Linked DNA regions of Homo sapiens. The protein of the gene in region 2 purifies or fractionates together with the protein of the main gene of each other region. This does not show direct contact. Each region holds a gene or a part of one and is shown on either strand. Other genes may lie near its edges.

Region 1 (8,264 bases), about 26 Mb from region 2:
GTTGTGTTTGTTTACTTATTATCTATAGCTTTTTTCAAGCTACAGTGGCAGAGTTGAGTAGTTAAATCAGGGACTGTGTAGCCCCCAAAGCCTAGTGTCTCTTCTCTAGCCCTTTACAGAAAAAGTTTACCAACCCCTAGGCTAGAGGGAGAAGAGCAGTATAGGGAAATGCATCATGGGTAATAGACCCCAATCCAGGATCTCCACCCCAGAAGTGGTGATCTTGCGGCATTCTAGCCCTAGAGTATTTGGTGGGGACGGCATGGTGCCTGGGTCAACACTGTCTGCAAATACGCCAGGCCCCGAGGCACAATGTCTTCATTTCTGCCCTCTCCCTTCGCGCTCAGCCACACATCCAGCGAAGGTGGGGGTAATTATCCTTGACCTTATCTAGACTTCCTCTGTTCTCTGACGATGCCAAGTTCTGACCATTTTACTTATCTGATGGGGAGGTGGCTGCTAGGAGAGAAGGGGAGCTGTGTGTGTGGAACACAGTGGAGGGGCAGAAAAAGCGGCTTGTTGGTACTCTTTCAGGCCACAAGGACAGCCATTATGCAGGCACTGTCAGTAGGCGCTTCCTATTAAAGTAAAGGGTAAATCTGCGAGTGTCCCACAATTAAAAGCACCCGGCTGGAGGTAGAGGCACAGGGGGATTGGCTGTCTGTTGATTCTTGTCAAAACTGGGTTTGGGGTACTTGGGATTATACTGCTTTGTCCATTTTTATGTGTTTGGAACTTTTTGTAGTAGTTAATTTAAAATGCTCCTGCTCTTGCTAGGATATGACACTGGTTGAGACCAAGAGTTGATCTTCACACCCAGAGCCACAGCCTCACTCCACCTCTCCACAACCCTGTGACCCCGGGAAAGTCACTTCACTAAGCCTGAGTCCTGTTCGGGAAGTGGCAGTGATTAAAAGCTTTTTTTTTTTTTCCACCTAATCCTCCCAATTTGAAGATCAAGAAATTACTGACCTTCAAATGGGAAGGATTAAGTGAAACAAAAAACCTGATGGACTTGGCACAGTGACCAGCAGAGAATAGTGTTCAGTAAATGTTGAGGTCCAGCACGTCGCAGTCTGAAAGGCAAGATAATAACATGGTGCATAAAACTGGAGTTTTCACAATACTTTGACAGGCTCACAATGCATCAGCAAATAGGACAGTGATTACTCATGATTTGATAAGCTAAGAAAGGAATTCAGAGGTAAAAACGCCAGCTAGTCTGACCGATCTGGGCCTAGAGTCCAGGTTGCTGTAACGCACTAAGCAGGCTGTAATCCAGGACTCAGTAAATTGGAAGGAGAACCTTGTCAGAAATTCTATGCTAAGGGCTGTAAACGTAATGGGTGCGAAATAATTGTATGTCTGTGTCTTTTTAAACGTGGAGTTTTTTCCACAGAGGCACTGTGTGCAGTAGAGGCGGTAATAGTGGAGTCAGACAGGGCTGCTACTCTGTGCTACTAGTTTAACCTCTGCATAGATGTAGTTTCTCCTGCTGCCTGCTGAATACCAAATACCATGATGAGTTAAGACCACTGAAGTGACCAGCAGGATTTTAGAACTCTGATATACGTGGCTCCCTCCTTCTAGTGTAGCTTCATAAACTCAACGAATGCATCCCTTTGGTGCCCACTCTGTGACCTTTTCCATCTTTTCCAGCACTGAGGCAGTTGTGTCAGACATCCTCTTCGTCTCGATTAAAGCAATTTAGCATTTTTTTTTCCCCTCTGAATTCGTGAGTGGCAAGTGAAAATCATTCCTGTGTATTGAAAAAACGTGGATTCTCACATTTCCCATGCCGACCAAGCATGCTAGGTGCTGTTAGAGCCCACCTCATCCAGAGTGCCCTAGGTGGTGGGCCCTCACCTGCGTCCCCAGCGCTTATCCCAGCACACTGGTTTCCAAAGAACTCCTCAGGTTGACACTGGTTGAATTGGGGTATCCTGGGCCAGCTGCCAGTGTTACAGTAGAGCCCAACCCTGGGCATCTGCAGTGCCGATTTGGTGGCGGTCCATCAGAGGATGGTCCAGAGACCTGGACCGGTTCGATCAGGGCATAGCCACCCCTTTTGGTCCTTTGCTTTGTTAGGTTACGTAGGTAGGTCTAAATCCCTCGCCGCAAAAAAGAAAAGGCCTAGCTGAAAATATTATCTTTTAGTCTTTCTGTCTTGTTTTGAAGGTGCTTGACATCCTCCAGCACATCCAAACCCTAGACCCGGGGCAGCACGGGGCGGTGGGCTACCTGGTGCAGCACACTCTAGAGCACATTGAGCGCAAAAAGGAGGAGGTGGGCGTAGAGGTGAAGCTGCGCTCCGATGAGAAGCACAGAGATGTCTGCTACTCCATCGGGCTCATTATGAAGCATAAGAGGTGAGTGCCCGGGATCATCTGTCCTGCAGTGTCCGTTCCAGAGGGGCTGCAGAGACACACATGCACCTGGTGAGCCCCCAGGACACAGTGGAGGAGGAGCTGACTGGATCACTTATCCCCCGAGTGCGCACCGCGGGGAAGACAGAAAGCTGAACCTCTTTTTTTTTCTTTTTGAACCGTGTCTTTGACCTTTGTGTTTTTTAAGCAGCAGCTTACTTTCCTGAGAGATCTTCTAGTGTTTTTAGTGGCCTTTAGATGTTTGACCCTTCTCTGTGTGTGAGAACATGGAAGTAACTTTGTAAGACACGAGTTTTTTCTCTCATTTCCTCATTGTTCTTATATCTTGTCACTTAATCTCAGTCTCTTCAAATCCGATAGGCACTTGGTCTATTTACCAGGCAAAATTAAACTGTATCCAAAGTGATTGGAGCAGTTTACATCCCACCAGCAGGCTGGGAGCCTGGAGTTCCTATTCTCGCCTGGTGCTATTGCCAGACCTTTAAAAGTGTACTTACCTGAGAAAGGGCAAATAGTGTTTCACTGTGGTTTTAATTTCTGTTTCCTGGGTTACTAAACACGTTAAGGTTCTTTTCATATATTTACTGGCTATCCAAGTTCCAAATTTCCTTTTATTAAGCGCCTATTCAAACATTTCATTTTTCTTTTCTTTTTTTCTTTTTTTTTTTTTCTTTGGAGACAGTCTGGGTCTGTTGCCCAGGCTGGAGTGCAGTGTTGTATCTCAGCTCACCTGCAACCTCTGCCTCCCAGTTCAAGCGACTCTCATGCCTCAGCCTCCCAGGTAGCTGGGACTACAGGCGCACACCACCACGCCTGGCTAATTTTTTGTGTTTTAGTAAAGACAGGGTTTCACCATGTTGGCCAGGCACGTCACTAACTCCTGACCTCAAGTGATCTGCCGTCTCAGGCTCCCAAAGTACTAGGATTACAGGCGTGAGCCACCACACCCAGCCCATTTCGTGTATTTTTTTCTATTGAGTTATTAGTCCTCCCTAATATGATATGTAGTTGTTCTTCTGTGTATCAGTATCTACATGACGATAAGTTGCAAATATCTTTTCCCAGTTTTTGGCTGGTGGTTTTCATTCTTTATTGCATTTTTTTAAACTTTTAAATGGAAATTTGCAAAGATTTATAAGAGAGAAAGGACTATAAGGAACCAGGTGGTGTTCCTGTCATCCAGCCTCAACAGCTGCCATACGGGGTGAATCTTACTGTCCCCTGCACCCTCCAGACCTTCCTCCCTGGGTTAATTGACGCAAGTGCCAGATGCCATTTCACCTGTAGCGATTTCAGTATGTACCTCTAAAAGGCAGGGGTGCTCTCTCCTTCTCTGTCTTTTCATATTTAACATCTTATTATCACATCTAGAAAACCCCAGTTCCTTAACTTCATGCAGTATCTAATGAGAGTTCCTATTTCCCCAGTTGTCTCATATTTTTACATGTTTGGATCAGGATTTGTTAGTCTCTTGGTTTTAGTGATGTCAGATTGGTTAGTCTTTTCCTTTACGGCTGTATTTTTAGTGCCTTGTTTTAACAAACCTTCCCTATCTTGAGTCATGAAGATACTTTCTATTTTAGAAGTTCTGCATTTAACACCTGAGTCTTTGCTGTACTGAGAATTGAATTTGGTGTGCTGTTGTCAGGCCAGGTCCCCATACCTTTTTCTTTTGGGTAACCAGTTGTCATCTAATCACTTTTTGTTGAAAAGTTTATTCTTTTCCAGATAAAGTGCTATGTTGATAATAAGAGGTGTTTATAAAAGGGGTTAGGGGTGTCCTGAAAAATGATTCACCGTGGAGTAAAGCAGGTAACTGAGGATGTGAGCTGAGAAGCCACGCGGTTGTCTGGAGGTTGTTGCGGCCGGGTCTGCAGGGACTGACTGCTCCTCCTGTGTTAACTAGGTATGGCTATAACTGTGTGATCTACGGCTGGGACCCCACCTGCATGATGGGACACGAGTGGATCCGGAACATGAACGTCCACAGCCTGCCGCACGGCCACCACCAGCCTTTCTATAACGTGCTGGTGGAGGACGGCTCCTGTCGATACGCAGCCCAAGGTAAGCGGCGGGTTCCGCTTGTGCCAGTGGCCCCGCGGGCGTGTTTTCAGCGCACGTTTGAGCCCTCGGGTAGGTACTGTGGGCGTGGGCCATCGGTTCCTTCAGAGGCGGCCGACGCCCCATGGCCGGCCTCCTTCGGGCCCACAGTCAGCTAAACGTGGCTGGGTCTGCACAGGTGCCGCCCTGGCGAGGGGTCAGTAGTCATACCCGCCCTCCCCCAGGGCCTCCGCTCCCACAGCCCGGACATCTGATTGGCCACTGTCTATGCCAATCAAATTCCTGTAAGTCCTGCCTCCTGGACCCTGCCCTCGGCTCCTCCCAGACTAGAAGGGAACCGGATGAACACCTGGGGGCCCCCTAGTGCTCCCTGGCCTCCCAAGGCTGTGGCTGCCGGCTGACGCCGGAGATGCCCTCGTGTGGCCACCTGTGGGAACTGCAGCCCACTGCGCCGGCCCTGGGAGCACCTGAGAGCCCGCAAGTGTACAGTAAGGTTGGGTAGGCGTCTGGGCCACTGCCGCCCCGGCAGGTGCCAGCCCAGGGCAAGGCTGAGGTGGAGACTGACAGAGCCTGTGGAAGCTGGTAAGAGACAAGAATGCCTTCAGTGTGAGTCTCCCTTCTCTTTGTTCCTGTTGAATTTCACCTCTACTTAATAGGATGAATTCAGTGTATGTCTGTCAAAGCATTCACATTGATTAATTAATAATTCACATTTATTAATAAAAATGAATGTGAATGCTAATGTAGTGCCATTCTGTGACGGACATCATTCTAATGTATATTAACTCCATTTGAGAAACATCATCATCATCATTTTCTAGGTGAGGAAACTGAGGCACAGGGAAGCCATTGAGATTTTAACTTAGAGAACACGATTTGAAGCCAGGCAGCTTGACAGAGCCTCCTCTTCATCCATCATGCTGTACCTGCTCATGTCTGAGTTTTGACCTAACTCAATATTATGTTCTGATAAATCCAATAATCAAAATATGGGATGTATAAAAACCTCAGAACTTTCTGAAAGGCTGGAGATTGCCAGGTGAGGTGTCTCACACCTATAATCCCAGCACTTCGAGAGGGTGAGGCAGGAGGATTGCTTGAGCTCAGGAGTTGGAGACCAGCCTGGGCAACACAGCAAGACCTCATCTCTGCAATTTAAAAATTAACCAGGCAGAGTCATGTGCACCTGTGTTCCCAGCTACAACACAGCAAGACCCCATCTCTACAAAAAAATTTAAAAATTAGCCAGGCAGAGTAGTGTACACCTGTGGTCCCAGCTATTCAGGAAGCTGGGTTGGGAGGATCACTTGAGCCTGGGAAGTGAAGGCTACAGTGTGCTCTGATTGTGTTGCTGCACTCCAGTCTGGGTGACAGAGTGAGACCTCATCTTAAAATAAAAGGCTGGAAAATAATGATTATTGTCAGTTAATCAGAAACTGAAAGGATCCCCTGGAACAGCAGCATCAAGATAAATGTTTGTTGAAACTGCAGGTCGCTTGCCCTGTCTCAGTGTGATGGGGATGGTGTAAGGGGTTTCTGTGCTCCCTGTGGCAGATGGAGGCACCAACGGTAATGTTATTTAACTTTTGAAGCTGTGTCGAATATAAACAATCTCTAAAAATCAACACATGATTTGGACATTATTGACTGATTCACTGGGCCACTGGTGCCAGCACAAGTCACCTGGTAAACGCTTGATAGCCTACAACAAATGGCGTTCACAAGAATAAATGAGCATTTTCTTTTCAACAACACCGTGGGCCAGTGTCTATGGCTTTACCACATGGCATCATTATTCACTGTTTAGGGTTGGTCTTAAGTATTTGGTTTTAGGGGTTGTGATATGTTCACTTCAGAAGTTGATCTCTAATCATATCTAGGTAAACATGCAATGTAAGGTTTAGTCATAAAATTGTCATTACTGAAAAAATTAATATCTGCTTGTTGGTTTTACCATCTGTTAAATTGAGATGGAACTAAATGATGGGTAATGTTAGCAAATTGGCTTCTTGAATTTAAAACGTAGAACTTCAAAGCTGTTCCTACACTATGAGAGTTCCCGTCTTCTGCCGGCGGCTCCATCAGCGCTGTGTCAGCAAGCGCTTCCTGAGGGACTCGGAGTCCTGGGCCAAGGGGCAGATCTCCCCCAGCATGCCTGATACGTGGCTGTCTTCAGGGTCCTCCCTCTCCAGGGGACTCTCCTCTAGGCCTTCATCTCCTTCCCCCTTGGGGTGTCTGTGGATGTGCTGGTGACTCCCAAAGCCGTGTTCTCTGGGCTCTTCTCTGGGCTCCGTGCCCACCTCTGTAACAGCCCCCGGGCATGTGTGCTTGGAGGGCTCTCAGGGGTCTTCTCTCCAACATTGTTACCCCGACTCACTGAACCCATTGTTTTAACTCGATTATCTCTGTAAAGAAAGAAAAAACATGAACTCATTGTGCCCCCATACCCCCCTTGCTCCTGCCTGCCCCATCTCACTAGTGACACCACGTGGGGGCCGTGTCTTGCTCTTCTCCCCTTGCCCTCGCGATACATCTGTCTACACACCCACTGCTGTCTCCTCATGTGTCTCCCATTTCCATTCTGGTGGTCTCTGCTTGCCTACTTCCTAACTGGCACCTGCCTCCCGGCCTGTCCCCAACCGGGCATTTTCCTTAGCAACAGCAAGAGGATCTTCCTAGCGTGTCCCTGGACCGGGCCACTTGCTGCTTGAATTGACTGACCATCAGGAGTTTCTCATCGGCAGGCAGTGCAGAATGCTTTACCAGGCCCTAGGGATCTGGCCTTCCCCTTACAGCCCCAGCACGGTTCCCACGCCTGACATACTCCAGCCCACTTCCGTTCATCTTCTTTGAAGTCATCATTCTTGCTCGCACGTGGAACAGTTAAAAGAATACATCAAATACCCCCATTTACCCTCTAGTCAATTCAACAGTAAATGATTCCCATATTTGCTTTATCTATAGAGATTTTACTGTTTTCCTGCACCATTTGAAAGAATATTGCAGACATGACCTAATTATGTCTGAGTATAAGGAGATTCCTCTGCATAACCAAATTACATTATCACACCTAGTAACAATTATTTTATAATATCTAATAGTTTTCAAATTTCTCAATTGTCACAAAATAACTTTATGCCTATTTTTGGCTTGTTTCTTAAAATCAGTATCCAACCAGAATTCATTCACTGCATTTGGTTGTTTTTTTTCTCTTTAGTCTCTCTTATTAAAGACAGTTCCTCATTCTTCATTTTTTTTCCCCCCTTTTTCATATGACTTTGACTTTTTGAAGAATCCAGACTGGTTGTCTTGTAAATTTTTTTTTTTTTTTGAGACAGGGTGCTCTGTCACCCAGGCTGGAGTGCAGTGGTACAAACATGAGTCACTGCAGCCTCAACCTCCTGGGCTCAATTGATCCTCCTATCTCAGCCTCCCAAGTAGCTGGGACTGCAGGCATGCACCACCACACCTGGCTATTTTTTGTGTTTTTGTAGAAATGGGGTTTCACCATGTAGCCCAGGCTGGTCTCGAAGTCCTGGACTCAAGCATTCTGCCCGCTTCAGCCTCTCAAAGTGTTGAGATCACAGGTGTGAGCCACCGTGCCTGGCCATTGTCTTGTAAATTGTATAACATTTTGGATTTGCCTCATTGGTTCCTTAACTGTATGATGTCTGCCAGCTGGGAGTGAAGTCTGAGTCCTGATTAGATCGGGATAAGAATTCTTGGGGAGGATACTTCACATCCCTCGCCCCGTGCTTCCCACTGGGTCTCATCAGGGGCCCCCTGTGAGTGATACTGAGTTTGGTCACTTGGCTA
Region 2 (6,298 bases):
TGCCCAGGATATGAAGCCAGTAAGTGGCAAAGCTGGGATTTGAACTCAGCAACTTTAGCTTCAATGTTAGTGTTCTTTACCACTGCATGATGTTACTCTACAATGAAAATAATCCCTTATGATTTAAAACTCTTCAGTGACTTTCAAATTATTCCTAAGGACTAGAATCTTTAAATTCGGCGTGGAATATTCTTCCCTTCTACCTTGTGCTGCTAAGTACTTTTAGTCTTTTATATGTTTCCTTAATCATTATTTCTTTAGGGAATCCTTCTCTCAAATCACTATTATTAATTCCTTCGCAGCATGCAGCTGTCTGTTAATATTTATCACATATGAAATTGTACATATTTTTTGTGATTTTCAGTTAATTTGTGTCTCACTGTAGAATAAACCATAAACAATATTATTTCATCTGTGTGTAATACAGTCATATATATGGTACTCAAGAAATATTTAAAGAAGGAGGGAAGGTAGAAAATTCTTAGAGTTGAAAAGTTCTTGGAGAAACATACCATGACAATGTTATTTCCACATAGGACTCCATTTTATACTCTGCCTCTTGAATTACCACTTATTCACTGTTTGAAGTCCAGAGGTGGGTAACTCTACCTCAAGAAAAGTTACTTCCATTGCTGGGTGACTTGGAACAATATCAGAAAATTCTTTCTTAACTAGAGCCAAAATATGACTTCTTATCAATTTTAACCATATGTTCTACTCTTCATTTTGGGGCTTCCTGGCATATGTTTTGTGCCCTTTTCAAATGGCATGTTTTCAAATATTTAAAGTTATGTTCCCCTTCACATATTTTTTCTCAGTCTAATGATATCTGATTACTTCTATTTTTATGACATAATTTTTATAATTTTATTTATGTGCTTTGAGGTCATTTAAAACACTTTTCTTTTTGTTAATGTCAATTGATTTGATTTATTACTTTCAGCCAGCATTTTAAAAACTATGTTCAAAGTTTGTTGATCGGTTCTCCTTTCTCAATCTCAAATAAGTTTTGGTGTAAAAATAAGTAGTAAGTTTTGTATAAGGTTATAGTAAGGATTGGTTCTTCTTCACCCTCAAATAAATTTGGTGTAAAAACGTAGTTGCACATTATATTATTTTCTTGGAAATTTACATTATAAAATAGCATATTACGTTTCTGAGAGGCTTTGAAGTAAACAATTGGACATTTTTAACCTAGTGTTTTACAAATATATATAATCATTTTTCTGTGGAAATATGCCAGATTTGTAGGATTTTAAAGAATACTGTTGGGAAAATGTATATAAAGGCATCCATTGATCTTTATGGAATACAGATTGCTTATAACATATGTTTGTAAAGTCATAAGGCTAATGTAAAGTACACGGTACTTTGTTACTTAATGAAATTCTGTTTTTCTTAATTCACAAAAATCAGAAATATGTCAAGTGATTAGAATAAAAACTTTTTTATGTTTTCTGGAAGAAAAGGAAAATGAAGGTAGGAGTAAACATATTTGAATATATTTATGCCAGAAAAATGAAAATAATTTTTACTATAACACATTTTTATTAAAACATGTTCTTTAATGAAGCTTGCTAATTTCTTTGAAATATTCTGTTTTGTTAGAAAGCATTCAATATTTTTATTTAGAAAATCCAAAAAACACAATCAAATATAAAGAACAATTTGCAGTTTAAGTGGATTTCAAATGTTAAAACACTAAGATTCCACAAGAAATGCATTATAATAAACATAAAATTTAGAACTTATAAGAATGCAGTGGACTATATCTAAAAACAACAGCTACAAGAAATGGTAATGAACTAGAAGTGACTGCTGTTTCATTATTTGATATTAAATAACAAGAATTCTTTAGTGATGAAGTATTTGATTCATTCCATACCCATTCTCAAGCTAAATATCAAACTTGTACCACCAACAGCTACTTAGCAATCTGCAATTGTTTTATTATGATTACAATTAAGAAATATTTTATTTTCTCATTTTCTTCAGGTCGTTATCCTCCTGTTTGATTATTACATTTATACTGTAAATTACGGTATCTGCATAAGTAATTTTAAACATACACAAATGTGTCCTTTTTATTGTATAAGAATGTAATTGTTTTCTTTAGTGTTAATAAGCTATGGAAGAGACCAAAATAAAACTATCTTTGAGTTGATAAACTATCTTAACTCTGTGTCTGTTTTATTAATTAAAAGAAAAGCAAATTAATGCAGGCTGTGATGCATGTAACTGGCAAAAGCATCTTTGAATAGAAAAAATACACTGCACAAATGAAAATGGTGGCCGAGAGCAATGGGGAATATGACTTGTGTCCTAAACCTATTAATGGTAACCACATTTCATGTCAGAAACAGCTCATTAAACTAATTTTAGATTTGGTGAGAATGTGTTTAAATAATGACAGCCTGCAGAAGTCTGAAGCAGGTCATTAAAGCCATTGGAATTGGTGGTTTGATTTCATTTCCATCCAGACGGAGGTAGCGAAGATGAGGTCCATAACTGAAGGAATCTCGTTCTGCAGGCAGCATGGATGGGCTGGGACATATTACAGAGACATTCACACCTACAGTGACAAAGAGAATAGATGAATGAATTGGAACACAAGAGAAACTAACAGTGGGAAGACCAAAAAACTAATGCCATGGTCCTATGGAGGGCTTAGTGGCCTAATATATGAAAATAGTGGTTATACAAAACATTTGTGTCAGTGAGAAATTGTGCCTATCTGTTTCCCCCAAACAAAAGTTCAGCAAACTTAACAGTCATCTCAGTCCATGTTCTGCTACTTAGTATAGAGCACTAGTAAGGAAATACTGTTAAGATCTGTGATAGAAACAAATGTGTATAAGACGTCACTTGTTTTCTAAATTTGCAGGTAAGATAAAGCACATTTAGATTGCTGTAGGTAGGATTTAGGGCATCAGAGGTGGAGACAACAGTTCAGATTTGGGACTGAAAGAATGGGTAAGTACAAGAGTAGATGGATGGATGGATGGATGGATCCTGGATGGGTAAGTAGAAAATCAATCTAATATAAAAGAAAATGCTTGAAAATTACCTTAAAAGATGCAAAATAGTGTGCATAACATGATTTTAAAAGTACAATTAACATAACTTTACATAAGCAATACAGAAAACAATCTTGAATCTTCATCTTCAAATTTATTTAATTGGAAACTAAAATTTTGCTAAGAATTGAATGACAAAGAACTCAAGCCAGAAAATATCCCAGCAGCCTTTTCATATGGTTAGGATGGGAGTAATTGTGCACCTGCCTTGGATCAAAGCCCTTGGCACCAATGACTATGCTGAGATTTAGGAACATACAGGAGAGAAGGCCAGTTAAACTAGCAAAATTCAGGGTACTCTGTAACAGCTGATTTCAACCATGAATCCATATATTACCTTTAAATTCCTTTTCAAAACCATTCCAAACAAGAGATCTTCCCTGATTAGACCCACTGAACTTGGGCAATGCCCCTCCTCTGTGGCCTATTGTTTTATATAGATTCATATTGTAGTGAATAATTTTATGTTTCCAGCAAGGTTGCTTTGCTTTGAATTTATGCCATTTTGTAAACTGAATTTAATAAAAATAATGACTCATTTGAATAGCAGTTTAGTTGTTATAAAATCAGGTTCTCTTTTTTTACATACATCCAAGTATCACCTGATCATCTCACAGGCTTTATCAGCCAATATTATTATTCTACATACCTGGGCATTTTGTGGGAATTCTGGTTCAGAGAAATAAGGAAATGCACACAACTTATTTCAGAAAGTAAGTGGCAGAGCTGAGACCTGGCCGATTCTTTCTAATTCTACAATGTGTCTCTTGCCCAAAAGAATATGTCCCTTTCGATGTGCAATCCCCTTATCCTCATCAAGCTCATGTCCCATAATCAATGTATGTCTGAATAAATGAATATAAAAAAGAAGTATTCTAAATTTAATTACATTTTCATAAATTACAGTGTTTCTCAGGGAACACCAGAAAGTAATGTAGTTGAGTAAATAACATTTTTACCTAATCTTAAATCCCTGAAAGTTTTCAGAAAAATAAATATTTCCATCATATTGCTTAAGACAAGTTCACTGTCTCATAAATTTTGATGTCTTTTCATAGAGGAGATATGTTTCTTAGAGACCACTTTGTTACAACTAGAGTAGATGATGTGGCTAGAAGAAGCAAGTACTTAAACAGTTTTGACACAGTGTGATATTATTATATCAATATTCTCTCCAGGGAAACTCTTATATTTATTTTCTTAAATATTGAAATGACAAAATTTGATATCTACATTAAAAAGTAAATAACTAGATTTCTCTTTGTTGCTTTTCTACTGATAGAATTTTTTAAAAATTTGTATTCATGACAATGAAGGAAAGTATTGTTATTATACTGTATGAGTGAAAAAAACACTTCAGACTCAGGTTCTGGCTATTGCATTTACCCTTTGTCCTTGGGCAAATATCCTCCCCTAGCTGATCTTCAGTTTCTCTCTTTCAGAAATTCCTAATAATATCACACAAGTTTCTCGCAAGGATTAAATAGTAGTTCTCAAATCGTGAGCCAGCAACATCAATACTATTAATACCTGGGGAGTAAACTGTGAGGCCCAACCTCTGACCCAGCAAGTCAGAAATTCTGGGGGTAGGAAACAGCAACCTGGGTTTATAAGATCTCCAGGTGATTCTGATGCACACTCAGATTTGAGAACGATAGAAAATTAGAAACCTATGAGAAAACACTTTGATAAAACTCTAAAATGTGGGTCTATACTACACACATAATACTCCATAAGCTAAAGTCTTATACTTCTCAACTGTGTTTTAAATACTGCTGCCTCACTCCTAAACACCCTAATTCACAAATGCTCAGGATGAAATGCATAATTTGTAAGCAAGGGCTCTATGTGGAGTCACTTGAAGTTTACTTCCCACATCAATTGTCCGTGGGGCTTTTAAGGAATGTACCTGTAATATACCTGTAGAAGCACAGAACACTCGTCAGGAAAAATTATGTATTTAGGTCAATATTGTTGTTGTTCTATTTGATTCAGCTAAACAGATTCATCTCTTAACATTTTTTTTCTGTTGCATCTTTTGTTTTTGACTACAGGATTAAACAATACATTTCATCACCATGGAAAAATAACCGCTATGATGGCAGGCTGCCATTTAATTCCTGGATTGTAGACTCAAGTACACTGTTATTTAACTCCCCCCACCAAAAAAACAAAAATTCTTAAATAACTGAGCAGTTCCCAGTGGAAAAATAGTCTGTTCCTATAAATGATATGTTTATGTGATTATTTGCTTAAAAAGCTTTAGTGAGTAATACCCAGGCAGCACAACCTTTTGACAAATTATCTTTGTTATTCTCTTACAAACTATCCTGACTGAATATTACTTTTGGAATGCATTTTCTTAGGTTGTCCTGGAGAAATCTCCCCAGAGTTATTTTTAAAGGGTCTACTCTGAGTTTGAAGATGCATAGATAAATGCCAGGCTAGGTATCGTACCCCTGTGGCTGGACCTATTTTTACACCAAGTCCAGCCTAGTCTCATGCATAATTGTGAAGAAGCCAAGTTTGTCTCTAATGTGTCCAACATCTGCTTTCTATAATCACTTCTTCTCTTGATGATGCCTCTGCCTCCAAAAACTTTGAATTCATCTCTCACTCCCTTATGAAAAGCTCTTTTCAGGAAAGGAGAGAGTATTCTACCTGACGATTGCCTGTAAGTCCCAAGGAGTTGCCAGCTACCAGGGAAATTTCTTTCCATTTTAATTAATAAAGCCTTAAACTATAGTAGTGGTTCTCAATGTGTAGTTCCCAGAACATCAACTGGACGGCTGTTAGAGATGAAAATTCTCAAGTCTCACTCCACATCTACTGAATCAGAAATTCTGGGGGTGGAGTCACCAGCCTTTACACACTTGTTTGAGACTCCCACTGTAATTAGCGGAGTTTAATTAGAGACTCCAATTAGGAGGGTTTCAGGCATCAGCTGTCATATAGTGTTTAGGACAAAGATGCCTTCCTAATGCCTCTTAAATCATATTTTCTTTATTACTAGTCATGAGGTTGTTTGTGCCTGGTATGGTTTCTTAAATAAGCCTACCCAATGGGGCAGAAATATTGGAATCTCCTGGAGTAAAAGAAGATAGAGGCATTCAGTTTCTCTAATGGATAATAGTCCTCTGTAGATGACTCAAGTCCACTTTTTAGTCTTCAGTTTGAAGATTTGGACTTCTTGGTTCATTAAGACTGTCTGCGTATAGACA

Evidence for each region.
Region 1: the proteins of KERA (region 2) and FBXO21 purify together in Homo sapiens (co-immunoprecipitation; 3 studies listed by BioGRID and IntAct, with this or other methods). This does not show direct contact.

What each region holds. Positions count from the first base shown.
Region 1 is NC_000012.12:117,151,978-117,160,241, reverse strand, and holds part of FBXO21 (F-box only protein 21), read left to right. Parts: intron 1-2,157; coding exon of another isoform or gene 2,158-2,178; coding exon 2,179-2,369; intron 2,370-4,293; coding exon 4,294-4,451; intron 4,452-8,264. UniProt on the Homo sapiens protein: Substrate-recognition component of the SCF (SKP1-CUL1-F-box protein)-type E3 ubiquitin ligase complex.
Region 2 is NC_000012.12:91,048,947-91,055,244, forward strand, and holds the end of KERA (keratocan precursor), read right to left. Parts: intron 2,573-6,298; coding exon 2,400-2,572; 3' UTR 1,545-2,399; downstream 1-1,544. UniProt on the Homo sapiens protein: May be important in developing and maintaining corneal transparency and for the structure of the stromal matrix.